2 linked regions of the Homo sapiens genome follow. The protein of the gene in region 1 interacts with the protein of each later gene in a pairwise test. Each region holds a gene or a part of one and is shown on either strand. Other genes may lie near its edges.

Region 1 (16,279 bases):
AGCATCCACGACAGTGAAATACTGTGTATTCATAAGTTTATATGTTGATATGGTTTGGGTGTGTCCCCACCAAAATCTCATCTTAAATTGTAGCTCTTATAATTTCCTCTTATCGTGGGAGGGACCTGGTGGGAGGTAATTCAATCATGGGGGTGGGTCTTTCCCATGCTGTTCTCATGATAGTGGATAATATGTCTCATGAGAGCTGATGGTTTTATAAAGGGGAGTTGCCCTACACAAGCTCTCTTCCCTGCCACCATGTAAAACATGACTTTGCTCCTCTTTTGTCTTCTGCCATGATTGTGAGGACTCCCCAGCCATGTGGAACTGTGAGTCAATTAAATCTCTTTTCTTTATAAACTACCCAGTCACGGGCAGTCCTTTATAGCAGCATGAGAATGGACTAATACATATGTTTTATATAAACATATAAAATACAAACACAGATATACAGATATACACACACATTTACGTGCACATTTATATTTATAAAATTTAAAAAAGCATACATCAAGTAAATAAAACAACCATAGCGAAATGTGATATGGTATATTGGGTAGATTTAGTAAAGTCATAGGCTATGGTCACTACAGTACACAGTTCTCGGCCTTGCTCTTTAGGGAATGTTTTTGAAATTTGAGAGAACATATTTGGTTGTCACAAAGAATGGAATGCCCAAGCATCTATTGATTGGAAATTAAAGATGCTAGCTGTCCTGGAAAGTGGTCTTTCAAATGTCCCACTGGATATTCATGTAGGTAAAAATCTGTCTGCAATTATCTTAGCCTGGAACTTAACCCGTTTTACATATAAACACAATGTTTTAGTTTAGTTTAGATTTTTTTCATTCTAGGAATGTAACTGTGTTGTGGTATCAGTCAGGATCTAGTCAGGAAAACAATCTACATTATTATTATTTTTTGAGATGGAGTCTTGCTCTGTTACCCAGGCTGGAGTGCAATGTCATGATCTCTGCTCACCGCAACCTCCACCTCCCAGGTTCAAACGATTCTCCTGCCTCAGCCTCCCAAGTAGCTGGGATTACAGGTGCCCACCACCACACGGAGCTAATTTTTGTATTTTTAGTAGAGATGGGGTTTCACCATGTTGACCAGGCTGGTCTTGAACTCTTGACCTCAAGTGATCCGCCAGCCTCAGCCTCCCAAAGTGCTGGGATTACAAGTGTGAGCACTGCACCTGGCTCAACCTACATTATTTTAACAGAAATAACCCTTTCCCGTTTGCCCCGAGAATATGCGCCAGCAGCGCTTGTGGATGCAATGTTTACCCTGAGATAACTTTGCCATGAAATATCTCACTTTTATTATTTTTGCATCGCTCTGACATATTGACCTTGAAAACAAAAGACGTCATTCTATTTATAGCATTCTGTTTCTAGTAGTGGCATTTCTGTTTACAAAATATAGTAATTCTCGATTGCTGAAAATGTCAAATTCTAGAAAACGTAGCATTCCTACACGTGATGTTAACAGCGTTCTTGAACAGTTGTTGACTGAAGAGTCACTTGATGAATCTGATTTTTCTGAAATAGATGATTTTGATGTTAGTTCTGTTTAGAAATAACTCCAAGAACAGTTTTTAGATTTTATTTTCACATTGAAAATCAGATTTGCTTCAACCTCAAAGGGCGTGTTTATGTAAAATCAAATGAGTGCAGGCAGTGAGCTATACTTTTTTTTTTTTGTTTGTTTGTTTTGTTGTTGTTGTTGAGATGGAGTTTTGCCCTTGTTGCCCAGGCCAGAGTGCAATGGTGCGATCTCGGCTCACCACAACCTCTGCCTCCTGGATTCAAACGATTCTCCCGCCTCAGCTTCCCTAGTAACTGGGATTACAGGTGCATACCACCACGCCCAGCTAATTTTTTTTTTTTTTTTTTTTTTTTGTATTTTTAGTAGACATGGGGTTTCACCATGTTAGCCAGGCTGGTCTTGAACTCCTGACCCCAAGTGGTCCACCCGCCTCGGCCTCCTAAAATGCTGGGATTACAAGAATGAGCCACCATGCCCAGTCAGCTATACTTTTGTTTCTAAACAAGAAAAGGGTTAATATGAGGAATTGCTTAAATAGTCCTGTTTAATATGGGGAATTGTTTAAATAGGTGTTAGAGGACTGAAAAAACAAAAAGGGAACACAGAGATAGTAACTTTAAGAAGCAGCTACCACCAGTAGGGCTGGGAACAATGGGAAAAGGTTAGTTATTAGAACGAAAAGCTTGGAAGAGAGGCCCTTTTCTTCTCTTCATATCTTCACTCCTGAAGGGTCTGAATCCATTTTTTAATCCTTTTAAAAAATTATAGTAGCTTCCATCAACTTTTATTATAGGATATGGAAGTGCTAAGGGGTACCACAGAAAATCCAGAACATAGTCCTTCCTGTCCCAATCGTCCTCCCTGTCCCCATCGTCCTCCCTGTTCCCACTGTGTTGTAGCAAACCAATTTCCTCTTGATAATGGGAATCAGTAACCCCACCCAGAAAGGTAACCCCTGCTTTTCCTGTTGTTTCCATAGCATGTGGAACCGAAAGTGGACACATCCCAGTCTTAGCTTCTAATTCAATGAAACCATAATTGTGATCCCTGGTGGGAACCCTCCCTTGGGAAGCAACACCCCCAAACCAGCAGAGCTCAAAGCAAAACAGGCACTGGAAGCAAAAACTGTATGAGTGGATTATTGGGTGTAATGATGAAAAGAACCACTTCTACTACAACCACCACTCCCTTCTCCCTCCCAGCCCCACCCTTGATTCTTGGACCTTGTATTTTGGGGGAAGCAGTACTATGTACTGACTCCTGACTCAAAGCATTTTCTGTGTCCTCCAAGAGGTAACTTCACTATGTTAGTGTGGTGTTTCCCAGCTGGTGCTGGAACTCAGTCTTCAGTAGAACTCCATCATCCTTCCAGGTGAGCTGCTTCTGGCTGATGAGGTATTGATAAGACTGGTAAATTCCATTTACATGAGTCCTTTGCTGCATTTCTTTTGCCATGAGATGAGTTCCTCAGAAAGAAGTAATATTGTGTAGACTATATAACAGTGAGTAAGATACAACATAAGTCATGGATGGTAGTTCTGTCAGAAACACTCTCTGGGCCGGGCATGGTGGCTTATGCCTGTAATTCCCGCACTTTGGGAGGCGGAGCAGGCAGATTACCTAAGGTGAGGAGTTCTGAGACCAGCCTGGTCAACATGGTGAAACCCCATCTCTACTAAAAATGTAAAAATTAGCCAGGTGTGGTGGCGCATGCCTGTAGTTCCAGCTACTTTGGAGGCTGAGGCAGGAGAATCACTTGAACCCCGGAGGTGGAGGTTGCAATGAGCCGAGATCATGCTACTGCACTCCAGCCTGGGCAACAGAGCCAGACTCCATCTCCAAAAAGAAAAGAAACACTCGCTGGGCACAAATCCATATCAGCTGGGCATGGAGGCTTACACCTATAATCCTAGCACTTTGGGAGGCTGAGATGGGTGGATCACTTGAGGCCAGGGGTTGAGACCAGCCTAGTCAACATGATGAAACCCTGTCTCTACTAAAAGTACAAAAATTAGCTGGGCGTAGTGGCACACTCCTGTGATCCCAGCTATGCAGGATGCTGAGGTGCGAGAATCGCTTGAATCTGGGAGGCAGTGATTGCAGTGAGCTGAGATCACGCCACTGCACTCCAGCCTGGGCAACAGAGCAAGACCCTACCTGAAAAAAAAAAAAAAAACAAGAAAGGAAAAGAAAACAAATTCATATCCACAATATGTGTCTACTCTAGTGAAGACAAGTAACTGTTCCCTCCATGAAGGAAGGGTTCCAAAATAATCAATTTGCTACCACATGGCTGACTAGTCTCCCTTGGAAATGGTGCCTCTCAATGTGTGATTTCTGATGTTGTCAGATATCAGCCTTACTGCAGAGAAGCCTAAGATTTGAAGCCCAAACATAGTCTTTATTCCTGACTCCATGGCTACTTTGAGCAAGCACTGCAATAGGTGGAGAAAGAGGCCCACTCCACCGAATGTGTCATTCACCTAATTACTAAAAGCCTTCTCAGAGTAGATGCTCTGTGGTGAGCATTCACATGGCACACAAATTCCTCACACTTTGTGCCTATTCTGAAAGGTGCACCCACAAACCTCTTTCCCGGACCACCTCATCTTTCCAAGTTGCTGACCATTCAGCAAAACCATCAATAATTGCCTGTGAATGAGTGTAGATCTATACCTTTGACCGTCTCTCTCAATCCAGACAAAGTAGACCCTAGGTGCGCTGCTGGAAATTTCTTGCACTGAGAAAATTTCCCTTCAGTACTGTCATCGGGGGCATTCCTTATTGAGACTGTGATGCTGGAATAGACCACTTCCAGCTTGTGCCAGTATATTTAGGAGAACTGTCTGTAAATCAGTTAACTGGTCTTAAGAAATTCCCCATGAAGTTGAAGATAAGGAGGCACCAGGAGTAAGTATCAAAGGAATCTGAGCTACCTGCTAAGGCAACTTGTGCTTTCTGGACCTGCTTAAGCTCAGTCTCTTACATACCATTTCCATTTGATGAGGAATTCCTCTTGTGTATGTCTGGTCTTATGGATTGGTAGATTAGATTACACTCAGTTCATAATGGGCAGCTGAGCTTGCAGTCACTTGATTGTCTCATGGCCAGTCATTCAAATTCACTTAGCAAGCTAGGGACCATTCCTCAAATAGAAAATTGTTATCTGCAGAAGAGGGCATGACTTGCTCTACAACTAAGGAATTCTGCATTGTAGATCTAATCAGGGCTCACCAGAGGCTCTATATAGCATCCTTATTTGCCACAGACACTTTAAGTATCATTGGATTCCTCTGGGTCATCAAGTCCTGCTACAGATATTTCTTCTCCCCTTATTCCTAATAAAAAATTCCAGCCTTATGGGTTGCTCTATAAATGGGTCACAGCATCACACTCAGATGTGATACATATTGCCTCTAAAATCCAAGGATACCCAGAAAGTATTGTGTCTCTTTTCTTAGTGGTAGATGGTACAAGGTGAAGTAATTTGTCTTTTACGTTGGGGAGAATATCCTGGTGTTTTCTAGACCACTGGACCTCCAGAAACTTCACTAAGGTGATGAATTTTCTTGGGGTTTATACCCAATCTCTGGCTCACATGTGTGTTGTTAAGGCAGCTAAAATATTTGTTACTTCCTGTTTATCAGGGCCAGTCAGCTCGATGTCTTTAACATAGTGATCAAGACCTGTGCAGATGAGATTATGCCAGAGAGTGGGAGTGTTTACATCCCCTAGAGAAGACTGTAAAGGTGTACTGTTGATCTTGCCATATAAAAGAAAACAACTTTTGGTGAAAATTGAAATAGATAAAAAGCATTTGCCATATCAATAGTGCACACCAGGTGCCTAGGGCTGAGTTGCTTTGTTGCGGTAAAGACAGCATATATAGAATAGCAGCTGCAACTGACATTACCATTTGATTAAGTTTACAACTTAATAACAAATCATAGTTATTCTCTAAGATCTTTTGCATAGGCCCAACAGGTGAGTTAAATGGAGATGTGACAGTATTATCATTCCTGTATCTTCTACGTCTTTTCTGGTGGTACCAATTTCTACATATTTCCAGGGATTGAGCATTGTTGTTGGTTTTCTATTCTGGTATCAAGAGGAAATTCCAGAGGCTTCCATTTGGCCTGTCTTACCATAATAAACTTCACTCTGTGGGTCAGAGAAATGATGTTAGGATTCTGTTAGTTACTGAGTATGTCTATTCTAACTAACAGTTGAGGAGATAACTATAGTTTGGGTCTGCAGAGCTACTGGATCCACACTGATTTATACTTAGTTAAAAATTTCATTTATCACCTACCATAGATCCCCATTTTGATTGGTGGATCCAGTGGTGTTTGCAATCCTCAGGAATTAGCATTAATTCAGAAGCAGTGTCAGTGATCCCTCAAATGTCTGGGTATTTCCTTTTTCCCAGTACTCGCTCAGCCTAGAAAAATACATCAGGTTCCTTTGGATAAGGCTTGGATGAGGATTTGTAGTATATATTTATGACAATGCTGCAAGACCCTCCTGAAGGGGACCAGCTTCCCTTTTAATCAAGGAGCTCTGTGTCTGTGAACTCATTTAGGTACGGAAACTGAATGAAAGATAATTTCATTTTGATGGCTCAAGGGAGCTTTCAGGTGGCAGATGTAGAGTTTTGTCTGTTATAAAGATCAATGGCTATTTCCAAAGTCTGCCCGTCTATTTCATTCCTAGGACAACCTAGGGCACTGCCAGATATACCTGTAGGTTAAGACCTTTAAGTACTACTTTGTCTCTGCTGTCCATTACAGTAAATGTGTCCACCTTGTCTCTGCCAGCTAAGTGCTGCCACTTGGCCATTGCTGTCGCAGGATCCCACTAATATAAAAATCAAGGAGCCATCTCAACGAAAGCATCTCCCACCATCATATCCAGCTACTAGAGAGTTTTTCTGACGTTCTCTCTCGAATGTATTTTTCTTTCCTTTTCTTTTTTTTTCTTTTTGACAGAGTCTTGCTTTGTTGCCCAGGCTGGAGTGCAATGGCGCGTCATTGGCTCAGTGCAACCTCTGCCTCCTGGGTTCAAGCGACTCTCGTGACTCAGCCTCCCAAGTAGCTGGAACTACAGGTGCATGCCACCACGCCTGGCTAATTTTTTGTATTTTTAGTAGAGACGGGGTTTCACCATGTTAGCCAGGCTGGTCTGGAACTCCTGACCTCAGGTGATCCACCTGCTTCAGCCTCCCAAAGTGCTGGGATTATAGGCATAAGCCATGGTGCCTGGCCTGTATTTTTCAATGCTTCAGTATAAAGATCATCATCTGGCTCTCCAGGAATATGTAGGGGTTGGCTGTACAGATTATACATGATAAAATTATTCCAACATTCCCATCTCCACAAATCTTTGGATTTCTTTCTCTACATTATACCAGGGGCATTCTGGCTTCTCAAGCTCACCGAATATAGTCAACTGCTGAGTCTGAGTCTCATTTAATGAAGTAAACAAAGTGTTTGAATCACTGTCAAAGTACTGGCTAACACATTAAAAGCAGACCTTCTGATAAGTGTAGTCTTATCAATAAATTTTGCCAAATCTTCTGCTCCCTATTTTATTTGGAACTTGGCCACGAGTTGTTCAACCTTTCACAAAGTCAGGTCACCTATGACAACACCAATCTTGATATTTGAATTCCTAACACTATATGTTCACATCTGTCTGCATTTGTAATTCTCTCATTCACAAAGCCTCTCCATATAGGTGGAAGCATCTTACTGCTTTGTTTTGTCAGAAGACAAAGAGAGTTGTGTTTTACCACTTACCTACTGAAATACATATTCATTATAAATTACTCTCCTTTAATTTTTCCTTTATTGTACAATTAGGACAATATATTGTTGCTGGTTTTTTTTTTTTTGAAATTTGTATTGGTAGGTAATATTATCCACAAATTACCTTTCAGGATAGTAAGGGGAGTGTTAAAGATACTAGTTACAAAAAGAGGATGATGGTCTGATTGGGTGGAGAACTGCTGCCTCCTCACTTTGGCCCCAGGAACTTAGGTGCAGGCATGTCCGCGATGAATCAAATTGGATCTTGAGTGAATCTTCCAAATTAAGTCATTTGTTATCACTCTTCTGAAAGATGGCTCTATTTAAGTAGAGAATGCAGGGTCCTATTCAGTTTACTTACAAAGCCATGCAGGGTGTTCAGTAAATAGACATACCAATAACAGCAGTGAAGAACTGACTCATAGATGCAACATAAACAATCTGTTGTATGTCTGAGAAAGGCCTTAGAATTTTTTGTTTGTTTGTTTCCATGCAACATTGATAACAGAGGAGTGGAAGCCAGGAACAAAGTTCCTTGGTTCTTCTTGTCTGCATGATCTGAATTATAATCTATAAGACTAATAAAGGTAAATTTGAGATTTAGCTGCTTCGACAACCAGAGTGGCTGGATGGTAAATGTGAGGATATTAATGCTCCTTTCTCTCCTGTCTCATGTGGAATCTTTGGGGGAGGTTCTAAGAGTAGGGAGGAAGAATGGACATTTGGTTTGTGAATATACAGTAGAGGCAGATGTTTGGTCTTGACCAAAGAATTCTGTAGCTCTAGTTTGCTCTTCAAAGCTGTTCAATGCTGCCCTACAGGTTTGCTCTATGGCCTGCCAGGGGCACATGGGGCTGCCTGGGAGCACTTCCTCTCCACTTGCTTACTTAATTCTCCCTTCTCCAGATCTCAACTCCTGTCACTTTCTCAGGGAAGCCTGCCCTCACCCACCAGTCTGGTCTGATTCCTTTGTTGTGGGTTCACTTCAGAAGCATGTTTTCCCTTGAGATCCCTTATCTCAGTTTGTAATTACATTCATTAGCAGAGACTATGCGGTTTATGTTGGCATCTTCTGAGAGCAGGTTATCTTATTTATGCTCTCCGTTTATTCCCGTGCCTAGCCAGTGCCTGACAAGGTAGGGACTCAGTACATAGCTGTTCAATGAATAAGTGTTTGCTCCAAATTCCAGAACTATCAACAGCTACTATGCTTACGAATATGCCCGTTGTATCTGTAGCCCATGGTGTTTGACAGCTGTCTTCTATTTGTTGAAGAGCTTGGTAACTTGGGATTTTGTAGAGATCAGTAAGGACTGGTGGGAACACCCAAAAGACCCATCAACTCGGTGATTTAGGACTGCTTTGCTTCTCCAGGAACTCCACTCCACCCCCACCAGCAAAAACCAAACCCAGGGTGTTTGAATTTAACAATAGTATGTGTGTGTGCATATGTGTGTGTGTGTTTAGCTGGAAAGTGGCTGGAGAACAAGGTGGAAGGGCCAGAGCTTCTGTTCCCTCCACCCATAAATGTTTGGCAAACACCCTGTAAAGAATCACAATGTGTCCGCTGCCTCCTGGCATTAAACAAAGGGAGCATCATAATTGCGGTCCCTGGGATCTTCGGGGCGCTGCCACCACCTGATTCTGGGTTAGGGGAAGGGGGCGTAACCCCATCTCCCCGGTTAAAGTGGACGGCATGTGAGTGAGAGCCTTTCCTGCCCCCTCGGGGTGTGTCCCCGCGGGCTTCCCCACCCATATGTGTGAGACCCGTCAGGGAGGCCCGCGATCCGCCCAGGGCCCGGGGCCGGCCCGGCCGGGCGCCGCGTGCAGGTGCGGAAGGCAGGCGGCGGCCCGGTGCGGGCGCGGGGGCAGCGCCGGGGGCCGGGCTGCGCGGCTCGGCTGCGGGCGGCAGGAGGCAGCGTCGGCCCAGGCGGCGGGCGGCGAGCGAGCCAGCGCGCGGTGATGTCAGTGGCGGCCCGGCTGGCAGCAGCCGGTACTTCCTGTGGAAAGGCGGGCGGGCTCGGCTGCAAACCCCACTAGCCAGTGTCAGCCTCTCGGCGGGAGGAGGCGGCGGCGGAGGAGGAGCAGGGGGAGGGCTGTCAAATTCGGGAGCCAGATTTTTTCCCTTCTCCTGGCAATCCCTTCCGCTTCCCCGGCTCCCGGCGTGACATCTGCGGGCCGGGGACCTGCATGTGTGTGCGCGCGAAGGAGCGGAAGAATGGCAGTGCTCAAACTCACCGACCAGGTAGCGGGCGGCGGCGCCGGCGGGCGGGACGCGCGGGCGCGGGGCGGCGCGGAGCCCGGCGGGGGGATGGGGGCGCGGCTGGAGCGCGCCCGCGAGCTGTTTACTCGCGGCGAAGGGGAGGACTGTGTGCGGCCGCCGGTGCCTCCGAGAGCCCGCGGCGGCAGCTCCCCTCCGCCGCGCCGTCCCCGCCCTGGGCCGTCGGAACTGCGCGCCCGAGTCTGGGGCAGGGCCCGTGGGCGCTGGGCAGCCGGCGTGCGGGAGTGCGGCGGCCGCGGGCCCGGCGGGGCTGGGGAGGGGGCCGGGGGCTCGAGGTGCTCTCGGGACTCGCACCGCGCCGCGTTGCGTGGGCGCCGCCGGCCCGGGCCCCGGGGAGGAGGACGCTGCACGAAGAGGGAGAAAGGATCGCAGACTGGGACCCCTCCCCAAACCTAGCAGGAGTCCTGCCCAGAATGCGGCTCTTGTGTGGCCGGGCTGTCTTTATTTATCCGTTGGATGTGACATCCGACTTCCTCTTTAGTTGCGCCAGGCTGTGTGCGTGGTGCGGGATGGGGACCCCTGGAGACCGCCCTTTCGGATCGGGCCGGTCCCTCTGAGGAGGAGGTGAAGTCGGCTCGGAGCCTCCACTCACAGGCGGTGGGCTACGGTCTGCCTGTGTCTACCAGCTTTGTTGGCTTTCCTTGCTGAGACACCACACAGGGCAGCTCTGGAGTCCTGGCTTGGAGAGGTGGGGTTATTTGCTGAATCGGATTGACAGTCCTCGCCGCAGGTCTGTGGAATGGTAACAGCCACCTTCGCGGACTCTGCTGCTCTTACATTGACACTAACAGGCACCAAACCAAGTTGCATGACAAAACTCTTTGCAGCTCTTTCCACGAAAAAAGGAAACGGCTTGCTACCCCCACCCCCGTTTATTCGTGGGTAGTGAAAGGAACTTTGTTTTGGGGTCCTGGTAGGCAGAGAGGCAATCTTGACTTTGACTACAGGGTCAGACTTGCCAGCCCTTGGTATTAAATACCTCAAACTTGTCCATGGGTTGCATCTGCTGCCTTGCGTTCTCCAGTTAGTATCCAGCCAGAACATCTTGCAACTGAAGTGCAGTCCGTCACCACAATGATTTGCAATGATTTGTTCTCCTGCCTTTTAGATTCAATTTTTTTAGCTTGTTTTTCCTAAATATTTACAGGTGTTTGGCGGGGTTGGTGATGGGGAAATCACTGAGTTAAAATTCATGTTATTGTTAAATTTAGTAAGAAGAGCAGCTGGTACTTGTGATGAATGTATTTGTTCTCATTGGTTCCAGAGCATTTAAAAGTGTAAGTTGATATCAGGATTTCCTTCACCTTTTGGTCACATACTTTGCCAACTGTTAGACATTTGCGTATTTTAAATCCTACAGTTTTAGCGTGTCTTGGGCCTGTCATCTTTGCTAGTACACGTTGCTGTACTTGTCTGTTAATCCCTAGATCTTCAAAGTACAAAGAATGGTTCTAATAGGTATTGTTATCACATATAAGAAAGAACATCACATAGAAGTTTAGAGTTGTAAGGACTCTAAGGATGATCTAGCCCAAACCCTTCATTTTCTAAATGACAAAACAGATCTGGAGAAGTGAAGCAAGTCTTCCTCAAAGAATGCCAGCTATAGGCCTGCAGGACTGGGACTAGCTCTTGTCTTCTGCCTTCCAGGTGCTTGTACTTTCTGCTACAGTTGGTATAGGATAGCTCCATCATCTCATTGGATGTGTTGTAAGGGTTACAAGAAAACATCTCTTCCTAGATCAAGATCAACCCTAGTGAGAAGTGTATTACTTGGTCTTACAAAGAGAGGAAGTTATTCTTCAGGGCTTATCAGAGCAGGAATTTCAAAGATGTTGCCTTTTAAGATGTTTCCAAGTATATTTCCTTCCTTCCCCCAATAAACTAGTATGAGTATGGAGAGAAAGGAAGAGTCACACAACGTTTATTTGGTTCCATCTCCAGATACGTAAAAAGAACCTAAGGCGTTTTAAGATTCAAGAACTTCTGAAAATGTCCAGTCTATCTTGGGACAAAGTCAGAAGGAGATGGGGTGGGGAAGTGGCCTGGGTGGGGTGGGGTGGTGAACAACGATGGTTTCTGTGTAGCTTTAGGTCCAGGAAGTAAGTGTGTGGTCTTTCTTGCCTTATATAGTCTTACCTTTTCTGTTTGAGACTCAATTCTTAGAAGTCAGTTCTTAACCTCACAGATTAACTTTTAAAACCATTTGCTTAGACCACTACTAGAAGAGTTTTGCTCCATCATTGTGGGCAGGGAGCCGCCCGCCTGCTTGGAATCCCTGCCTTAGAGTTTGTACAGGAGTACCTTGCTCTCCATTCAGCTTCTAGTAAAACAACCACTTCTTAATTTCTCCCTCCTTTTTTTTTTTTGTGTGTGTGTGTGTGTGTGTCAGGGTCTCACTCTGACTCGATAGTATGATCATGGCTCACTACAGCCTTGGCCTGCCAGGCTCAAACATCCTCCCACTTCAGCCTCCCCAGTAGCTGGGACTATGGGCGCGTGTGCCACCACACCTGGCTAATTTTTGTATTTTTTGTAGACACAGAGTTTCGCCATGTTGCCCAGGCTGGTCTCAAACTCTTGGGCTCAAACAGTCCACCTGCCTCAGCCTCCCAAAGTGCTGGGATTACAGGCATGAGCCACTGTGCCTGGCACCTCATCTGTTGAATGCCCTATTTGTGAAGTGAATCTTGATTTTTGCTAGGCCTCTTGGATTTTTTACTGTTGATAACCTGAAACACAAATTGTCTGGATTTGTCTTTAAATGTGGCAAAAGTCAGGGGTGACAGATGATGACATTTTCTCTCCAGCTAAAGCTGGGTGCAGGAGCTTGCTAGGTGAAGCAGACACTACTTCAGCAGTCAGTCCTGTAGTGACCTCTCAATCTTGTAAGAGAAGGAAAATGTTTTTTCCTAACTCTTTTTTTTTCAGGAGAGTAAAAAGAAAAAGGGAGAGACCAGTGTAATTTTTAGTCTTTTTTTTTTTTTTTTCACTGTAAAAAAGGAACTGGGAGCTATCACTACAAACAAACAAACTTGGCATTTAGCACTTCTGCATTTGTAACTTTTGTAACAGTGTCCCTTCTGTTTTCCTCTTCACAGGGCACACATAATTTTTATTGCAGCCTTAGGGGGCACTAACCATCCTGGTTTGTGCAGATTGACTGGTGTCCCAGCATATGGGGCTAAAACCGGGAAAATTCCAGGCAAACTGGGAGGAACTGGTTACCCTGTGTAACATAGAACATCCTCAACTATGTCATTAATATAATAATGTAATTAGTTCCTTGTATGTGGACATTAGGAGTTTTATATTTTTTGGTAAAGTGAGATAATTTTAAGTTTGGGAAAGAAAATTTTGTTAAATACAGATCTAAGGCATTTGACTCAAAGATAGCCATGAAACCTTTTTGAAAATTGATTTGATATTGACTGTTTTAGGGTGTTCTTTATGTCATATAGTTAAAGGCACTGTAGTCATTTTAAGTGTGTGGTCGTATCTTCAGCCTGGATCTCTACCCGAAATTTATTTTCAGAGTTATGAAGCTAGGATGGTAAGTTCTGTTGCATGTTTAAAGTGTCCACTATTCTTACCTGCATTTGTTAATGATGGCAGAACACTACTTTCATCTCGGAGGCTGCCTGCAGACAAACTGTTTCAGCAGGTGGCCTTTTTGGAGCTTCCTGCCTGGAGGCCTTCTGGTTTGGTGTTCCCTTGCCAAGTCCTAGTTCACACTTGAGTCACCTACCTTCTTGCCAAAGGCAGTGGCTGGCAGCGGTGGCAGTGGCAAGAGACTAGAAATCCTGTGTAACTTTGGGAGCAGGATTTCTAGCCCATAGTGTGGGGCCTTGGGACGTGTTACATATTTTACTGGGCTGCCCTTGTTCTTCCATGGCTCCCTAGAGCACTGGTGTTAAAGCAAACAGTATGCTGTAGTCCTGTCTTCAGCATAGAAGAAGGGAAAAGAAAGGCTTTATTTAGAACCTTTTCTGGTTGTTTCAGGACCCAATCACATGGTTTTGAGAGTGCACTTGAGGCTGGTGTTTCATGGCAGAGACCTAATAATGTCACACATTTATTGTGCTCTTATTGTATACTGGGCCTTTGCAGTGAATCATGTCTTAATCCTCATAGCCACACTAGGAGGTAGGTGGTGGTGTGATTTCTATTTTATGGATGAGAAAACAGGAATAGAGAGGCTAATTGACCGGTTTAGGGTCATACGCCCAGTAAGTGATCTAGCACACTGTCCTACCCTGGCAGTCTGATTGCACAGGTGGGGCTCTGACCACAAGGCTATACTTTTCATAGTTGAAAGGGCAGTGCAGCCATGGGATTAATGGGTGTCTGATCTTGTTTACAGAGAAGCCATTGGATGAACAGCGTTCCCTGAACTCCTTCTGCCTCTTGGGCCAGACCCATTTCTGTACATAGTAAGGAGCTGCTCTGAGGCCTCTGCCCCTGCCTGGCTTATACCTGGCTTTTCCCATTAGCCTCTCCATTTCCTCACCCCGGTGAATGATGTGTTGGTAGTTCAGTGATTTTTTTCATATATATATATATATATATATATAAAACGAACTGCGGTCATTATAGGAAAAGCAGAAAGCTAGATGAGCAAACCAAAAAATTTTAAAACCATCTGAAGCCTGTATACTCAAGAGATAACTATTCTTGACATTTTGATATGTTTCCTTCTAGTCTTCTGTCTGGGTAGCCAGTTAAAATTTTTAAACTTTTCGTGTGATAATATCATTACCTTTCACTTGTGCACATAGCTGATATCTGTGTTCTCTACACCAATGACTTTTCCAAATAAACTTATTCTTCTCTTACATATATGATTGGCTCTTTAGCCAACGCCAGCACATAAGCTCTAGCTCTGGATTAATGGAACTAACTTTTTTCTTTTTCTTTTCTTTCTTTCTTTCTTTTTTAAGATTTCAACTTTTTACTTCCTCTTTTGCTGTAAACAGAGAGCAAATACGAACTCAAAAAGGCACAAATTGTTTGTACCAGAAACAGAAATGAAAGATTCTTTAAAAAGATTTGTATTTCTACAAGATAATGTGAATTTTTATAGGCTAAAGTATAGCACGAAATAATTTAAAAACAGGCAGAGCTACAGAGATCTGATAATTTTGTGATTTCCAAATTTGTTTAAGCTATGACACTCCTTTTTTCCCCCGAAGAAATTTCATATTGAAGCTCAATATATAAAAAAGATTGGCTTGGACAGTGGTCCCTGAGTCCCTCTTGAAAACTGGTTGGGTTTAGTATTATTTGAAAGCCCCTTTGTATGAGAAAACTCCTGGTGATTGGTTAAGTGTTTTTTGTTGTTGTTTTTGTTTTTTTTCCTGACACATCATGTATGAAACAACATTTATAAATGTTTGTGAATGATTAGGAACTACACAGAACTAGGATGACTATATCATTTTTATCCGTTTGAGAATCATAGGTGATACTACTCAATATGAAGCCACAAATAGACGTGAGCCAGGACTGTCCTGGGTAAACCTGGATATGTGGTCATCATATATTCACATAGACTCCATGTTTGCTCACCACAGGCTTGACAGTGACAGTAAACTAGTTTGACTAGCAGACTACTCTGTCTCTTTTGAGTCAGGTCTACAGTGGTGCAGGTATTACAAAGATTGTTTTATGACCTTGTGCAGAGTTGGGAAACAGCTTCCATGTCACACATGAGTTCTGATCGGTCCAGGACTTGCAGGTGTAATGTGATAGAAACATTCTGACTCTTGCAGTCAAGGATCCGAGAAAGTGTGATTGATTACCAGTGTTTGCTATGGGTACACGGGAAGGGAGAAGTGACATATGTTGTACATTAGCCAACCCTTGGCAAGACATGTTAACCTCTGTAGGCTTCAGGTTTCTCTTTGTAAAATGAAGAGGTTGGACTGGATGCCTTTATGGTGCCTCAGCTCTGCCCTCTCCCTTCTGTGACTTGGTGCCTGTAATGGAGACCGATGCTCTTCACATGGTTTGTGTTATAGCATTTCTTACAAATGTGCCTATGAAGGGTGTATTTGCAGATGAGCTCTAATAAGGCTTTCCAGGTAACAAAGTCAAACAGCTTCAAGTTCCAGAGAAGGATTTTAACCCATGTCAATGACTTAGGACTAATTCCTATTCTCCACCCTACTTCAATTCATAGATAATCTAAGATTACCCATTTTATTTATTCTGTATTTTTATTTTTTTGGGACAGAGTCTCGCTCTGTTTCCCAGGCTGGAGTATAGTGGTGCAATCTTGGCTCATTGCAACCCCCGCCGACCCCCTCCTGGGGTTCAAGTGATTCTTGAGCCTCAGACTCCCGGGTAGCTGGGATTACAGGCTTGCACCACTACGCCCAGCTAATTTTTGTATTTTTAGTAGAGATGAGGTTTCACCATGTCGGCCAGGCTGGTCTCAAACTCCTGGCCTCATGTGATCTGCCTGCCTCAGCCTCCCAAAGTGCTGGGATTACAGGGGTAAGCCACCACACCTGGCCTAAGATTGCCCTCTTTATAGATTACTCCTTTTTAACCTTTTAACCAATATATTATTTGGCTTTGGCTGCTTTCAGAGGTCGGGAATGCAGGTATTTGCCCTTATCAGTGTTTATGTTTGTAAA
Region 2 (16,011 bases), on another chromosome or scaffold:
CTGCAGGAGTGCAAGGTCGTCAACCGCAAGCTGCTGGACTTCCTGCTGCAGCCACCCCACCTGCAAGCAATGGTGGCCTGGGTCACCCAGGAGCCGCCAGATAGCGGTGAGGAGCGGCTGCGCTACAAGTGAGTTCCCCAGCTCCTGGCCAGCCCGTCCCTATCAGCATCACACATACCTTCACTACGCAAGCCTCACAGCTACCCTGAAATGCGTCAGTGTCAGTAAACTCCAGTTTGGGGATGAGGAAGACGAGGCTGGGAGCAGCCAGGCTCCTGCACAAGGCCTCACAGCTCACCGGGTGCAGACCAAGCCTGTGCTCTGGAGGGCAGTGGCACAGTCACGGGTCACGGCAGCCACAAATTCACGGGCCCAGGTGATCCTCCCGCCTCAGTTGCCCGAGTAGCTGGGACCACAGGCATGTGACGACATGCCCGGCTGGTTTTTCTCTTTATTCGCCGCCTTTTATTTTATTTACTTTTTATTAAACTTTTTTTGTATGTTTGTGAAACACTTGTCTGCTATTGAAGACACTTTACTTATTTTTTAATCCAAGCGATGCTGAAAAGACACTTTTTTTTTTTTTTTTGAGACTCACTTTATCACCAGGTTGGAGTGCAGAGGCATGATCGGCTCACTGCAACCTCCTCCTCCCAAGTTCAAGTGATTCTCCTGCCTCACCCTCCTAAGTAGCTGGGACTATAAGCCAGCACGCCCAGCTAATTTTTGTATTTTTGGTAGAGACAGGGTTTCGCCATGTTGCCCAGGCTGGTCTTGAACTTCTGACCTCAAGTGATATGCCTGCCTCAGCCTCCCAAGGGGTACCTCCCCACAGTCCTGGAGCAGACTGTGGCCCCTCAGGGCCTTGAGTGGCACGCTGGTGGGGCAGCTCTTGTCTTGGAGCCGTCAGGCACCGTGTGAAAGTTTGGAGGAGGGAGGCAGGAGGTGAGGTTGGAAGTTGAGCAAGGTTCCAGGAGTCAGCCGGAGCTGGGGCAGCATACGGGGTTGCAAGTGAAGCCGCTGAGAGGCAAAAGGGATGAGTGTTAGCTGCTGGGGGATTGGGAAGCGCAGGAGCTTCAGGACCAGCTTGTCTTGGGGGTGGTAAGGAGCCTAGGATGGGATGGTTGGGTGTTAGCAGGGTGGAGGAGGCCTGGTGTGGGCCCTTGTTTCTGCGTCACCCTGTCCTCTGCCCTTTCCCCTTCCTGGACAGGGGTCTCTGCAGTTCCCAGAAACCCAGTGCCCGGTGCAGAGAAGAGGGTGGAGCCTTGCCGCCCCCTGCCCCCGGCCTCCGACCCGAGCCCCCACCCGCCTGTGCTTGCCTCCCAGGTACCCCAGTGTGGCCTGCGAGATTCTGACCTCAGATGTGCCCCAGATCAATGATGCCCTGGGTGCTGATGAGTCCCTTCTGAACCGGCTCTACGGCTTCCTGCAGAGCACCGGCAGCCTCAACCCACTGCTGGCCAGCTTCTTCAGCAAGGTCATGGGCATCCTCATCAACCGCAAGACAGACCAGGTGCCCTGGCCCCCACCCTGGCGCCACCGTGGGTTGAGGGGTGGTGGCTGGGCCAGGCCCTGTGCATGACGCAGCCCGTGTGCCCCCAGCTCGTGTCCTTTCTTCGGAAGAAGGATGACTTCGTGGACCTGCTGCTGCAGCACATTGGCACCTCGGCCATCATGGACCTCCTGCTGCGCCTGCTCACCTGTGTGGAGCGGCCTCAGCTGAGGCAGGATGTTGTCAATGTGAGCAGGGCCGGCTCCTCTGGGGGTGGGGGGCTGGGCGTGGTGGACAGCGATGCATCCCTCGCCTTCTCACCCTCAGTGGCTCAACGAGGAGAAGATCGTCCAGCGGCTGATTGAGCAGATCCACCCGTCGAAGGATGAGAATGTGAGTGCTGCCGATGCCCCTGCGGATTCCCCTTAGAGTTCCTTCCCCATGCCCACTTCCCCACTTTTAAAAGAGGAATTGGGGCTGGACGCAGTGGCTCACGCCTGTAATTCCAGCACTTTGGGAGGGCGAGGTGGGAGGATTACTTGAGCCCATGAGTTTGAGACCAGCTTGGGCAACATAGTAACACCCCGTCTCTACGTAAAAACTTAGCTGAGTGTGGTGTTGCACACCTGTAGTCCCAGCTACTTGGGAAGCTCAGGTAGGAGGATTGCTTGAGCCGGGAGGTCAAGGCTATAGTGAGTCATGATCACACCACTGCACTCCAGCCTGGGTGACACAGTGAGACCCTGTCTCAAAAAAAAAAAAAGAAAGAAAAGAAATTGGTGAGAAAAGAGAGCATTGAGAACCAGGTGTATCCATGCCCTTTGAGAAAAGGAAAGAAACTTGACTCAAGTGATTCTCCCACTGTGGCCTCCGAAAGTGCTGGAAAGGTTTTTTTCATGACCCAGGAACTTGGCACATAATGCCTTGCAGGGAGGGGCCCTCCTCATCGCCTGTCCAAGCGCTGGCCCCACATCCGTCCCTGCCCACCCTGGCCTGTGCTATTGCTGGGCCTGGCAGCTTTTTCCCTGTCTCCTGCCTGATTGAACCCCTTGCTGTCCTTCTAAGTGTCCGTCCAGCAGCCTTGCTTTCAAGCGCCCTCACATCCTCCCCTTTAGCTCTGGGGGACCCCATGTCCATGTGTTTCTCCAGCTTGGGTCTCCATCTCTGTCCTGGTGCCCAGCACAGGGCCTAGTGTAGAGTGGGTGTTTGTCAAGAGCCTCAGATATCCGAGGCCACTGGGAGCAACATGTCCTTCCCAATGCCAACTTCTGCCTCAGAGGCGCACAGGCTTACAGAGCAGAGATGGCTCTGGGCTCACCCAGGCTGGGGCCTGTCCCTGTGAGGACCCTGAGGCATGGCCCAGGGCCACACTGCCAAGCCCTGGCAGCTGCCCGTTGGGTAGACTCAGCTCTGCTTATGCTTCTCTCTTTTCTCTCTTTTGTAGCAGCTTTACTGAGATGTAAATTGCACAGCATACCACTCACCCACCGAAGCTTACGATTCAGCGCTTTTAGGGTATTCAAAGCGTTTATCATCTTGTTGAATTTAGATTATTTTTTATCACTCCAAAAAACAAGTCCTGCCTGTAATCCCAGCGCTTTGGCAGGTGAGGCTGGAGGATTGCTTGAGCCCAGGAGTTTGAGACTAGCCTGGGCAACATAGCAAGACGTTGTCGCTACAAAAAATTGAAAAATTAGCTGGCATTGGTGGTGCACACCTGTAATCCTAGCTACTCAAGAGTCTGAGACGGGAGGATCTCTTGGGCCCAGGAGTTCAGGGCTGCAGTGAGCTGTGATGGCACCACTGCGCTCAAGCCTGGGGTGATGTAGAGGCCGTGTCTTTTTTTTGAGACAGTGTCTTGCTCTGTTGCCCAGGCTGGAGTGCAGTGGCGTGATCTTGCCTCACTGTAGCCTTGACCCCCCTGGGCTCAAGCAATCCTCCTGCCTCTGCCTCATGAACAGCTGGAACTAGAGATGCACACCACCATTCTTGGCTAATTTTTTTGTATTTGTAGAGATAGAGTTTTGCTATGTTGCCCCGACTGGTCTCAAACTCCTGGGCTCAAGTGATCCTGCCACCTTGGCCTTTCTTTTTTTTTTTTTTTTTTTGAGATGGAGTCTCGCTCTGTCTAGAGTGCAGTGGCACGATCTCGGCTCACTGCAGCCTCCACCTCCCAGGTTCAAGCGATTCTCCTGCCTCAGCCTCCCGAGTAGCTGGGACTACAGGCGCCTACCACTGCGCCTGGCTAATTTTTTTATTTTTAGTAGAGATGGGGTTTCACCATGTTGGCCAGGCTGGTCTCAAACTCCTGACCTCGTGATCCACCTGCCTCGGCCTCCCAAAGTGCTGGGATTACAGGCGTGAGCCACCGCGCCCGGCCCCACCTCGGCCTTTCAGACTGCTGGGATTATAGGCATGTGCCATCACACCCAGCCGAGACCCTTTCTCCAGAAAAAATAAAAAAGATGCCCTGTGTTCATTAGCAGCTCCTCCTGATCTTCCCCTTTCTCTTCTTAGCCCCCGGCAACCACCAGACTATTCTGTCTCTGTGGATTTGTCTTTGGACATTTCATATAATTGGAATCATGTACTACGTGATCTGTGTGTGGTTTCTTTCTCTAGCATGATGTTTTTGTGGCTCATTCATGTGGTTGCATGTATCAGTTTCACTCCTTTTCCTGGCTGATTAGCACTCTCCTGTGTGGATAGACCAGCTTGGGCATATTCACTCATCAGTCAGAGCCTTCTGGGTCATTGTGGGCGGTGCTGCCAGCCCTGTATGCGGTCATGAGGGCCTTGTGTGGATGCCTCCTGTCCTGGGGAGCCTTCCGGGCTTCCTGTTCTCTCCACCATCTTCCCTCCAGCAGTTGGTGCCTCTGTGCCCTCCTCCTTCGTAACACGTGTCCCTGTGTCTGGGTGACCATTTTTCCCTGGATGGTCAGCTCATGGGAGGGGCTCCCAGCACCAGGCTGCAGAGGGCCCGGTGGCCCGACCAGGATCCTCACCTGTCTCTCCCCGTTCCAGCAACATTCCAACGCATCCCAGTCCCTGTGTGACATCATCCGCCTGAGCCGGGAGCAGATGATCCAAGTCCAGGACAGCCCAGAGCCTGACCAACTGCTGGCCACCCTGGAGAAGTGGGTGTGCGGGCAAGGCTAAGGCTGGGGGGAGCTGACTTGGGGAAGCCCTGGGCCCCTGGCCCCTCACCCTGACCCCTGCCCCTGCCCCCGCAGGCAGGAGACGATTGAGCAGCTCTTAAGCAACATGTTCGAGGGGGAGCAGAGCCAGTCTGTCATCGTCAGTGGGATCCAGGTGCTGCTGACCCTGCTGGAGCCCAGGAGGCCGAGGTGAGGGATACGGGCCACAGACCATGCATGCTGCCCATCCCCAGGGGCTCTCCGGCCCCTCAGAGGCGGGTCTCGGTGTCCACCAAGAGAAATCCCCGCCCGTGGCACCTTGCTCTGTGGCTGCCTGTGCTCCCTGCACAGTGGACAGTACGGGGCCGAGGGAGGAATCTTCTTGTCTGCTTTGACAAGTGAGGGCACTGAGGCTGAGGCCACTGCTGCAGCTTGTGTTGGGAGGGACCCCAGGCCCCCGTGCCCCTGCCTTACCACACAGGCCGCTAGCCTGTTGGGTTTGCCTTCCCGCCTCCACCCCTCACCCGTGCTCTCACAGTGGACTGCCAATGCTGCCGCCTGGCGGGCTCCCCACCCCAGCCAGGTGTTGTCTGAAGGGCCTCAGAAGAGAGCGGCGCTGGGGGCATGTGGCTCCTCGTTTTCCTCCAGACCCTGCAGACGTGGTCCTTGTGCCTACTCCTGTGTGGGCGCACAGGCCATCTAGGCTCACTCCGCCTTCGACCCTGCCCTGCTGCAGGTCCGAGTCCGTGACCGTGAACAGCTTCTTCAGCAGTGTGGATGGGCAGCTGGAGCTCCTGGCCCAGGGGGCCCTGGAAAGCACTGTGTCCAGTGTGGGCGCCTTGCACGCCCTACGCCCGCGGCTCAGCTGCTTCCACCAGCTCCTGCTGGAGCCTCCCAAGGTCAGGGGTGTGGGTTCTGGTCCTCGGGGAGGCGGGGGAAGCAGGAAGGGCAGCCCTTGGGAATCAGGCCTCCCTGTGTCTGCAGCTGGAGCCGCTACAGATGACATGGGGCATGCTGGCTCCGCCTCTGGGCAACACGCGGCTGCACGTGGTCAAGCTCCTGGCCAGTGCCCTGAGCGCCAATGATGCAGCCCTGACGCACGAGCTCCTGGCACTGGACGTGCCCAACACCATGCTGGTGCGGGGACTGGACCGGGCTGGGGGTTCAGGGGCTGGGGCGGGGACTGGACTGGGCTGAGGGTTCGGGGGCTGGGGTGGGGGCTCGGCTGGGGGCTCAGGGGTTGGGGGCTCGGCTGGGGCGGGGCCTCTCTGGTACCAATCCTGTGTCCTCCCATAGGACCTCTTCTTCCATTATGTCTTCAACAACTTCTTGCATGCCCAAGTAGAGGGATGCGTGAGCACCATGCTGAGCTTGGGGCCACCTCCTGACAGCAGCCCTGAGACGCCCATCCAAAACCCTGTTGTGAAACATGTGAGCTGGGACTCCCTGGTCCCCCTCCTTCTGGGCCCATCCCCTGTGGGCGCACCCTCTCCAGAGGCCTACCCCTCACTCCTTCCTCCCACAAGTGTTTGTTGGGTAGTGTTAGGTGCCAGCGCCCAGATGGGGTGTGGGAGGCATGGCCAGGGAGAAACGCGGATGAAACATGCAGGTGCAGGGAGCAGTGGGCTCCTGACTTGAGCTGAAGAGCTAGGGGTGGGCGGGAGCAGACCTGCGAGCAGCTGAGTGTGCATGAGTGCGCACACGTGCGTGTGTGAGCATGTGTCAGTGCAAGCGTGTGTGAGAGCATGTATGTGTGTGAGTGCACACGAGTATGTGAACATGTATGTGTGAGCATGTGTGTGTCCGTTAGTGCATGCATGTGTGTGTGTGTGTGTGTGTGTGTGTGTGTGTGTGTGTGTGTATGCACCACATATTCTTTTGTAGAAAGACCAGAGAGACTTGGGTGGATGCCAGGGTCCCAAGCCCCAGCTTGCATCCCTCCTTCCCATCCCCGTCTCTGGATGAGCGGGGGCCTGGTGAAGCATCTGCTGAGGAAGGGACCCCTGCTGCAGTGCAGAGCTCCCCACATGTGTGCAGACCACCCCTCCAGGCCATCCTGTCCCGCTCTCCCGCAGCTGCTGCAGCAGTGCCGCCTGGTGGAGCGGATCCTGACGTCCTGGGAGGAGAACGACCGTGTACAGTGAGCACCTGCTGCCCTTCATGTCTCCAGGGGCTGGGGCTGCCTGGATGGGGGGCCGGGCTGGGGCTGGGCATCCCTGGGTCCAGTCCTGGCTTGCAGCCGCGGCCTTCACTCTTGCCAGGTGTGCGGGAGGCCCTCGGAAAGGCTACATGGGTCACCTGACAAGAGTGGCCGGTGCCCTGGTGCAGAACACGGAGAAGGGGCCCAATGCAGAGCAGCTGCGGCAGCTGCTGAAGGGTGAGGGTCCCCAGGCCGGCCTGAGGGCTAGGTGGGGGGCTTGAAGCCCCGAGATGCCTCACGTCTTCACCCCTCTCACCTAAGCAGAGCTGCCCAGCGAGCAGCAGGAGCAGTGGGAAGCCTTCGTATCGGGGCCCCTGGCGGAGACCAACAAGAAGAACATGGTGGACCTGGTGAGGCCCAGCTTCTCTTCCTGCACTCCTCCTGCTGCTTCTCTCTCTTGGGCCAGTCTTAGCCTCCCACCGCCACCGATAGCTGCCTGCCCACCCTGGTCTGGGGGCTCCAGCAGGCCCTGACGCCCCCTCCTCTCCCCAGGTGAACACCCACCACCTACACTCCTCCAGTGACGATGAGGACGACCGGCTCAAGGAGTTCAACTTCCCTGAGGAGGCTGTGCTGCAGCAGGTGGGCGTGGGGCTATGTGGGGCTGTGCTGGGCTATGCTGGAGTGGGGTCCTGCCCAACTCCCTCCAGCCCTAACCTCCGCACCCCCACAGGCCTTCATGGACTTCCAGATGCAGCGCATGACCTCTGCCTTCATTGACCACTTCGGCTTCAATGATGAGGAGTTTGGGGAGCAGGAGGAGAGTGTGAAGTGAGTGTCTCCTGCGCAGGGTCACAGCCCTGTCCTGCCTCTGCAGCAGCAGGCGCGCCTACTTGTATCTGTCCCCTGCACGCACCTACATGCCCTGTGGGCTCAGCCTGCAGCTGTGGCCCCTCCTGGGCACGCGTTGGCCGTGGCCTTGTGTGTGTGTCTGCAGCCTCGTGTGTCTGCCTCCTGTTACATGAGTTCCAGCTCTGCAGTCTCTTCTCTCCGAGAGGCAGGCCATGAGGGTGGGGCACAAACATCTTCTGTGCTGGGGACACAGAGCGGGTCCCTCCCACTCCTGGAGCTAGCCTTAGGGGTTCCAGGCGGGAGGGGCTCAGGGTAGTGGGGACCAGCAGTCCTGGCGCAGGGACTGTGGGGCAGAGCTGCACCTCCATGGATGCCCTCTGGCTCAGGAGTCTGCCAGACATGGGGGTCCAGTTTTCCCCTCCACAGGCCTCGGGGTAACAAAACTTTTTTTTTCCAATTACCAATTCTGCTTGTTTTGATTTGTGGGTCAACCACATCTTAATATCAGTCACCTCTGGGTGTTATGATCATGAACTTTTCTGAGTTTCTTGCCACAAGCATCTGTTGCTTCTGGAGTCAGAAAAAAGTGGCTGGGCGGAGTGGATCACACCTGTGATCCCAGTACTTTGGGAGGCCGAGGCAGGCAGATCACCTGAGGTCAGGAGTTCGAGACTAGCCTGGCCAACATGGCGAAACCCCATCTCTACTAAAAAATACAAAAATTAGCCAGGCGTGGTGGCAGGTGCGTGTAGTCCCAGCTACTTGGGAGGCTGAGTTAGGACAATCGCTTGAACCTGGGAGGCGGAGGTTGCAGTGAGCCGAGATTGTCCCACTGCACTCCAGCCTGGGCAACAGAGCGAGACTCTGTCTTGCTCCCCACGATGAGCTCATTTACGGCCAGGGAGACTGAGGCCCCAGGACATAGCTGGTTAGTGTGTGGGAGCTGGATGGCTGCCCATGGCTGCCCCGGGGTCCCTGTACAGCACAGCGTAAGGGACACCACGATGAGGGATAGTCAGCTGTTCCTGGCTTAGTCCACAGCTGGACAGAGGTCCTCTCAGATGCAGACGTGATATCCTGTGTTGGCTGCTTCTGTGCCCAGCATGGAGACTTGCAGAGCGTTGGTCTTTGTGGGTCAGTGGCCTGTGCCGAGACCCCTGGAGAAGATGCTCAAGTGAAAACTGGGCTGGACACAGTGGCTCACATCTTAATCCCAGCACTTAGGGAGGCCGAGGCAGGAGGATCGCTTGAGTTCAGGAATTTCAGCCCAGCCTGGGCAACATTGTGAGACCATCTCTGCTTTTTTAATTAAAAAAAAAAAGAAGAAAACCCCACCCTGGCAGGAGAATGAAGGGACTGACTGGTAGATGGCATTGGGGTCACCAGCTGCCCCTTTCGGGATGAAACTGTTAGCTTTTCCTCTACCAAGAAAATTCCAGAGGGGTTAAGAAGTTAAGTGAACAAAACTAAACCCAGAAAGATTTCCGGAATGGAAAGTGGATGACTGGTTTGATCATCTCAAGGCTGAAGATGCTGCCCCGCATAGCTCCTGTAGCAGAAGCCAGGTCAGCTGAGGCTGCCAGTGCCACGGGGACATGGGCTGCCCTGCCCTAGACCCACTGTGTGCCCAGCGTGGTCTCTGCTCCGCTGCTTCTCAGTGTCTAGGAGGGACTAAGGACACTTGCCTTGGAAGGTGGTTGTGAGAATGAAGTGCGTGAGTAATGTCTGTCACATACTTAGTGTCCTTTAAGAATTAACTGTCCTTTATCCATTGATCTTTGTGGCAGAATTTTTCATGAATTTGAGACAAATGATCCCTTGAACTGTCCGTAACACGTGGGACAGAATGTGGACCCTGATCATTAGACCCTCGTGGTGAGGGAGGTGGGGCCCTGGCAGGCACAGTTTAAGTTTTGACGTGATTCTTTTTCCCATAATTTAGAATTTCAGCCGCGGACCGTAGACATCTTGAGGTTAGGGGATGTGCTTTATTGGGCTGTAGTCTCACATTCTGCTTGTGCCTGGCTGGTGTGAGTGTCAGCCTCCTACAGATGCCCCAAGGATGGGGACAAGGGCATGGATCTGAATCCCTCTCTGGCACCTGTCCTTGGAAGAGCCTGAGGAGAGTCGCTTAACATTTCCGAGCCCCATTTTCTCACTTCTAGAGCCAAGGGAAACAGCCTACCTCAATGAGTGGTTTTAAGGATTTAAAGTGATCATATGTGAGATGTTGATATTCATGTATGCGTTGCCCCTTAGGACCAGTGGTTCGGGTTGTGTGTGAATTTGCAGATACCAAATCTGCAAGTAATGAGGGTCAGCTCTGTGTTGAGTGAAGAAAGAAATGTGGCCTGTCCTGTGCTGCCCCCACCCCCAGGTGGACCTTCTCACCATGCCTTGCCTTCTCTCCTAGCGCACCTTTTGACAAGACAGCCAACATCACCTTCTCCCTCAATGCTGACGATGAGAACGTGAGTACTGCCCTGTCCCCTGGTTGTGGCGGGTGGAGGGGTGTGGGGCTGTGGGCAGTGTGGCCCATCCTCCCACCCCTGTGCCCTGCAGCCCAACGCCAACCTACTTGAGATATGCTACAAGGACCGCATCCAGCAGTTTGATGATGATGAGGAAGAGGAGGACGAGGAAGAGGCCCAGGGCTCAGGGGAGTCTGATGGAGAAGATGGCGCCTGGCAGGGCAGCCAGCTGGCCAGGGGGGCCCGTCTGGGCCAGCCACCTGGTGTCCGGTGAGTCCCCCTCCAGTTTCCCTTCTCCAAGCTTCCACCACACGGCAGGGCCAAGGGGTCCCCCCAACACATTTGGACTGAGGCTGAAGTGAATGAAGAAAATAAGGAACCTGCATTGGTGTGTGTATTAGTTGGGGGCACTTTCACTTTTGAGTGATAGAAATCTAATTCAAGGCCAAGCATGGTGGGCTCATGTAATCCCTGAGTGCCTGTAATCCCAGTACTTTGGGAGGCCAGGGCAGATGGATTGCTTGAGCTCAGGAGTTTGAGACCAGCCCTGGGCAACATAGGGAGATCCTGTCTCTACAAAAAATACAAAAGTTAGATGGGCATGGTGGTGTGCACCTGTAGTCCTGGCTACTCGGGAGGTTGAGGTGGGAGGATGGCTTGAGCCAGGGAGGCAGAGGTTGCAGTGAGCCGAGATCATACCACTGCACTCCAGTCTGGGCAACAGAGCCAGACTTGTCTCAAAAAAAAAGGTAGATGATGCATTAAGAAATCAACAAATTAGCCGGGCACAGTGGCTCAAGCCTGTAATCCCAGTACTTCGGGAGGAGGCCAAGGTGGATGGATCGCTTGAGCTCAGGAGTTTGAGACCTAGCCTGGGCAACATAGCGAAACCCTGTCTCTACAAAAATTACCTGGATGTGGTGACGTGTGCCTGTAGTCCCAGCTACTTGAGAGGCTGAGGTGGAAGGATCGCTTTACCCTGGGGGGCGGAGGTTGCAGTGAGTTGAGATCGCACCACTGCACTCCAGTCTGGGTGACAGAGACCTGGTCTCAAAAAAAAAAAAAAAAAAAAGAATCAACAAATTAAAAAAAATCAGCCGGGCACGGTGGCTCACGCCTGTAATCCCAGCACTTTGGGAGGCTGAGGCGGGCGGATCACGAGGTCAGGAGATCAAGACCATCCTGGCTAACATGGTGAAACCCCGTCTCTACTAAAAATACAAAAAATTTGCCGGGCGTGGTGGCGGGCACCTGTGGTCCCAGCGACTTGGGAGGCTGAGGCAGGAGAATGGCGTGAACCCGGAAGGCGGAGCTTGCAGTGAGCCAAGATTGCGCCACTGTACTCCAGCCTGGGCGACAGAGCGAGACTCTGTCTCAGAAAAAAAAAAAAAAAGGAATCTAATTCAAATGAGTTAAGTTATGAAAAGAAAGGGATAATCTCTGTGGCTGAAAAAATAGGCAGGTCCTGAGGTATGGCTTGGTCTGTGTGTGTCTCTCTCTTCCCGCCTCCCTGTCTCCTTCCTTCATCCCTTCACTTCACTTCCTCGTGTTAGCTCTCACACGTTTTCCTAGAAAGGGGGGTAAGATGGTCCCAGGCAGCTTCTCTCTTCTCTAATTCCAGTAAAATGAGAGATGATGACGTCCCTCTCCAATCAGGCTGTGATGACATTTTAGTGCAAATGTTACATTGTTTTTTTTTTTTCTCTTAATACTGGCCGGCCCCAGAGTCGCTGTGATGAAATGGGTTCATGCCATGTAGATTTGACAGCCTGAACACTAAGTCATCATCTGCAACTGAGTTTTTGACTCATGACTTTTGATTTCGGAATTAGGCTGTTTTCACTTTTTATTGACATGTAACATGCGTATAGACAAGTGTACATACAGATCCTGAGTGTGTGGCCAATGGATATCCTTCCTCAGTGCCCAGACCCAGGAGCAGGACCTTCCCAGTACCCACATCCCCTCTGTTAGCCAGTATCCTCCCTTCTGAGGGTAAAGTTGTCCTGGCTTCTAACCCTGTAGATGAGTTTTGTCTCTGTTTTCACTTGATATAGCATACAGCATCTCCTTTTATGTCTGACCTCTGTTGCTCAACACTCTGCTTGTGAGCTCCTTCCCTGTTGTGTGTTTGGGTGCCCCTGGCTCTCGTGCAGTGGGGCAGTGCCATGCATGATGAGCTGCAGCTGAATTGCTTGTTCTGCAGTTGACAGGCCTTTGGGCAGGTTCCTGTTGCTCGCTGCTGTGAGTGCAGCCGCTGTGAGTGCGGCCGCTGTGAATACCCTTGCACGTGTTGTTGGTGCACAAGTGTGTCACTGCCAAATCCAGCATCTTGACTTAGCCCTCTCTTTTCTTCTAAGAGTTTTATAGCATTATTTCTATGGTTTTCCATTCATTTTGAGCTAAATTTTGTATATGATGTGAGGTGGTCCACCTTCATCCCTTTACATATAGATAACCAGTTTTCCCTGCACCAGTTGTTGAAGACACTGTCCTTTCTCCACTGAATCATCTTGGCACCTGTGTAAAAAGGAAATATTTGACCATATGTATGAGTTTGTTTCTTCCCTCTCTGTTCTGTTCTATCAGTCTGTGTGTTGTTTTTATCCAGTACCACACTGGCCTGGTTGCTGTTGCTTTATAGTAAGTTTTGAAAATGGGAGGTTTGTTGGGCACGGTGGCTCACACCTGTAATCCCAGCACTTTGGGAGGCCAAGGTGGATGGATCACCTGAGGTCAGGAGTTTGAGACCAGCCTGGCCAACATGGTGAAACCCCATCTCTACTAAAAATACAAAAATTAGCCGGCTGTGGTGGGTGCCTGTAATCCCAGCTACTCAGGAGGCTGAGGCAGGAATATCGCTTGAACCTGGCAGGCAGAGGTTGCAGTGAGCTGAGATCGCACCATTCATTGCACTCCAGTCTGGGTGACAAGAACGAAACTCCATCTCACAGAAAAAAGAAAATGGGAGGTTTTAGTTTTCCAACCTTGTTCTTCTTTTTAAAGATTGTTTTGCCCTATTTGGGATTTCTTGAGATTCCATATGAATTTTAGGATCAGCTTGTCAATTTCAACCAAGAAGCCACCTTGCGTCTTCTAATACGTGAACATGGATGTCTTTTTATATAGGTCTTAAAATTTCTTTCAACAATGTTTCGTAGGTTTTAGAGTATGAGGCTTTGTATTTCTTTTAAGTTTATTCCTGTTTTCTTCTTTCTGTTACTATTGTAAATGGAATTTTCTTGAAATTGTTTTCAGATTGTTACAAGTATATGAAAATACAATAGGTTTTTGTATGTTGATCTTTCATCCTGCAACCTTGCTGAACTAATGTATGAGTTCTGATAGTTTTAGTGGACTCCTTAGGATTTTCTATGTACAGAATCATGTCATGTGAATAGAGTTCATTTTCCTTCCTTTCAAATCTGGATGATTTTAATTTCCTTTTCTTGCCTGGTTGCCCTGGCTAGCCTCCGGGACAATGTTGAACAGAAGTGGCAAGAACAGGCATCCTTGTTTTGTTCCTGATCTTAGGGGGAAGCATTCAGCGTTTTGCCATGTAAGCATGCTGTTAGTTGTGGGGTTTTGTAGATGCCTTATGTTAGGTTGAGGGGCTTCCTTTATACTCCTTAGTCGTTGAGTATTTTAGTTTACTTTTAACTATATACAGATATATTACTTTCCAGTTAAAGTAGTCAGTTACTCTGTTAAGACAAAAATATTGGGTCAGCATTTTAGACATAGTATATAGTCCCATACTGCATCTTTGGGTCAGCGATGGACCACATATGACAGTGGTCCCGTGAGATTATAATCCTCTATTTTTGCTGTATTTTTCCTATGTTTAGATACACAAACATTTACCATTGTTAGAATTGCCTGTAGTATTCAGTACTGTAACATGCTGTATAGGTCGGTAGTCTAGGAACAATAGGCTATACCACAGAGCCTAGGTGTACAGGAGGCGCCACCATCCAGGTGTGTGTAAGTGCACTCTAGAATGTTCACACAATAGCAAAATCGCCTAATGATGGCGTTTTTCAGAGTGCACCCTCGTTGTTAAAGCTTAGTTTTAGTGTTACTTTGCTTACCCCTTCCCCGGTTGATCAGCACGTAGGTTGCTTGGATTTTCTTCATGCTCACAGGTGTGTGTTAGTCAACATTCAGCCAGTGTTTTTGGAGCAGCTATGGGTGCCTGGTGGTTTCTCAGGGCTGAGGATACAGCAGTGGCAAAACTCAGCCATCTCTGCCTTCTTGGAGTTTCTAGTTGGAGGGAGAGAGTAGTGTGAAGCCTCTGTCCAGAGGGTGGGCCTGCTGGTGGGAAGGCCTGTCACTGTGGTGACCGTGTGAGGTGACGGCTGGGAGGTGGCTTGAGAGCTGGTGAGTGGGTCTGTCTGCTCTGGTTGCCATGGCTGAGGCTCAGCCCACTTCCCCAGGGCCTGCCCTCCACGGATGACTGGCGACGGACGGTCTCCTTACGGCCGCATTCTGTCCCTGCCCGCCTGTGTTCTTGCCGTTGGCTCAGAACTCCCTCTCCCAGCCTCTCCTGGTGTCGTCACACCCCAGGCTCCCTGGACCCTTCTGTGACCTGCCTGTCATCCCAGCCCGCTCTCCTTGGGCTGACCCTGGGCTGCAGGGAACAGGATGGGTGTCGGCCGGTCTGTCCCACACAGCTAGCTGACGAGGTGGTTTCTGGGGCAGGAGTGGAGGCAGCACAGACAGTGAGGACGAAGAAGAGGAGGACGAGGAGGAGGAGGAAGACGAGGAGGGCATTGGCTGTGCAGCCCGTGGAGGGGCCACCCCTCTGTCCTACCCCAGCCCTGGCCCTCAGCCTCCAGGTGAATGAATGGGCGGTGTGGTCAGGTGTACACAGGGCTGTCTGCCTGCTACTGAGTTCACCCTCCATCCCGCTCCCCCACCTCTATCCCAGGCCCCAGCTGGACAGCCACCTTTGACCCAGTGCCTACAGATGCCCCGACCAGCCCCCGAGTCTCCGGGGAGGAAGAGCTGCACACTGGGCCTCCAGCCCCACAGGGGCCCCTCAGTGTGCCCCAGGGCCTCCCCACTCAGAGCCTGGCCAGCCCTCCTGCCCGTGACGCCCTGCAGCTCAGGTGAGAACCGGATGGAACGGGCTAAATGGTGCTGGTATCCCGAGGCCAGGAGGTGGCCATGGGGTCCCCGTCCTCTCATAGGCTCGAGTGCTAACCCTAGCTGCCCCCTTGGGCTGCCTCTCTCGCCTACCAGGTCTCAGGACCCCACACCCCCCTCAGCACCTCAGGAAGCCACAGAAGGCAGCAAAGTCACGGAGCCCTCAGGTGAGCCCCGCTTTGCCCTGCCCACCCGCGGCCCTGGGCAGAGAGAGCAGCCTGGCCAGCTCCGAGCTTGCTGGGAGCTGCAGCTGAGATCTCTTATCCCCCACAGCCCCTTGCCAGGCCTTGGTTAGCATCGGGGACCTTCAGGCCACCTTCCACGGGATCCGTTCTGCCCCCAGCTCCTCGGACAGGTGAGCAGCGAGGTGGGGCTGCCTAGTATCGGGAGAAGTCTTTTCTCCTCTTCGCTGAGGTGGGCTCTGGGTTCATCTTGTCCCTGAGCTGCTCCAGGCCTCCTTTGCAGGACCCCCAGGCGCAGCCTCATGTTGTGCCCCAGCCCCTTGCACTCTGTAGGCTGGTTCTTCTCTTAGTAGCCTGGGATGCTTGGGGCCCTTGAGCCCCAGGGTTGGGAAGGGCTCGTTGGAGGGTGTGAAGGATTGGGAGGGTGAGAGCATGCAGAAGACCCTTTGGGGCTGTCTCAGCCGGCCTCGAGTACCTCCTCCACAGGGACAGGAGGCGGGAAGAGGGGTGCTTGTCTTCCTGTCCAGGGCTGTGCTGTCCCTCCACGCTGAGCCAGCTGCGTCCTCGGGAGGCCCCTCCCCGTGGGGCA

What was found.
Region 2: the proteins of ANKRD44 (region 1) and PPP6R1 interact in binary tests that used the Homo sapiens proteins (3 or more experiments, as listed by UniProt).

The regions. Positions count from the first base shown.
Region 1 is NC_000002.12:197,303,901-197,320,179, reverse strand, and holds the start of ANKRD44 (serine/threonine-protein phosphatase 6 regulatory ankyrin repeat subunit B), read left to right. Parts: upstream 1-9,399; 5' UTR 9,400-9,575; coding exon 9,576-9,602; intron 9,603-16,279. UniProt on the Homo sapiens protein: Putative regulatory subunit of protein phosphatase 6 (PP6) that may be involved in the recognition of phosphoprotein substrates.
Region 2 is NC_000019.10:55,230,994-55,247,004, reverse strand, and holds part of PPP6R1 (serine/threonine-protein phosphatase 6 regulatory subunit 1), read left to right. Parts: coding exon 1-128; intron 129-1,326; coding exon 1,327-1,513; intron 1,514-1,602; coding exon 1,603-1,740; intron 1,741-1,754; exon of another isoform or gene 1,755-1,819; coding exon 1,820-1,885; intron 1,886-4,516; coding exon 4,517-4,629; intron 4,630-4,725; coding exon 4,726-4,839; intron 4,840-5,365; coding exon 5,366-5,528; intron 5,529-5,613; coding exon 5,614-5,766; intron 5,767-5,925; coding exon 5,926-6,060; intron 6,061-6,704; coding exon 6,705-6,769; intron 6,770-6,890; coding exon 6,891-7,006; intron 7,007-7,028; exon of another isoform or gene 7,029-7,093; coding exon 7,094-7,179; intron 7,180-7,321; coding exon 7,322-7,411; intron 7,412-7,502; coding exon 7,503-7,600; intron 7,601-10,034; coding exon 10,035-10,092; intron 10,093-10,183; coding exon 10,184-10,362; intron 10,363-14,793; coding exon 14,794-14,930; intron 14,931-15,022; coding exon 15,023-15,203; intron 15,204-15,336; coding exon 15,337-15,407; intron 15,408-15,513; and 2 more. UniProt on the Homo sapiens protein: Regulatory subunit of protein phosphatase 6 (PP6). May function as a scaffolding PP6 subunit. Involved in the PP6-mediated dephosphorylation of NFKBIE opposing its degradation in response to TNF-alpha.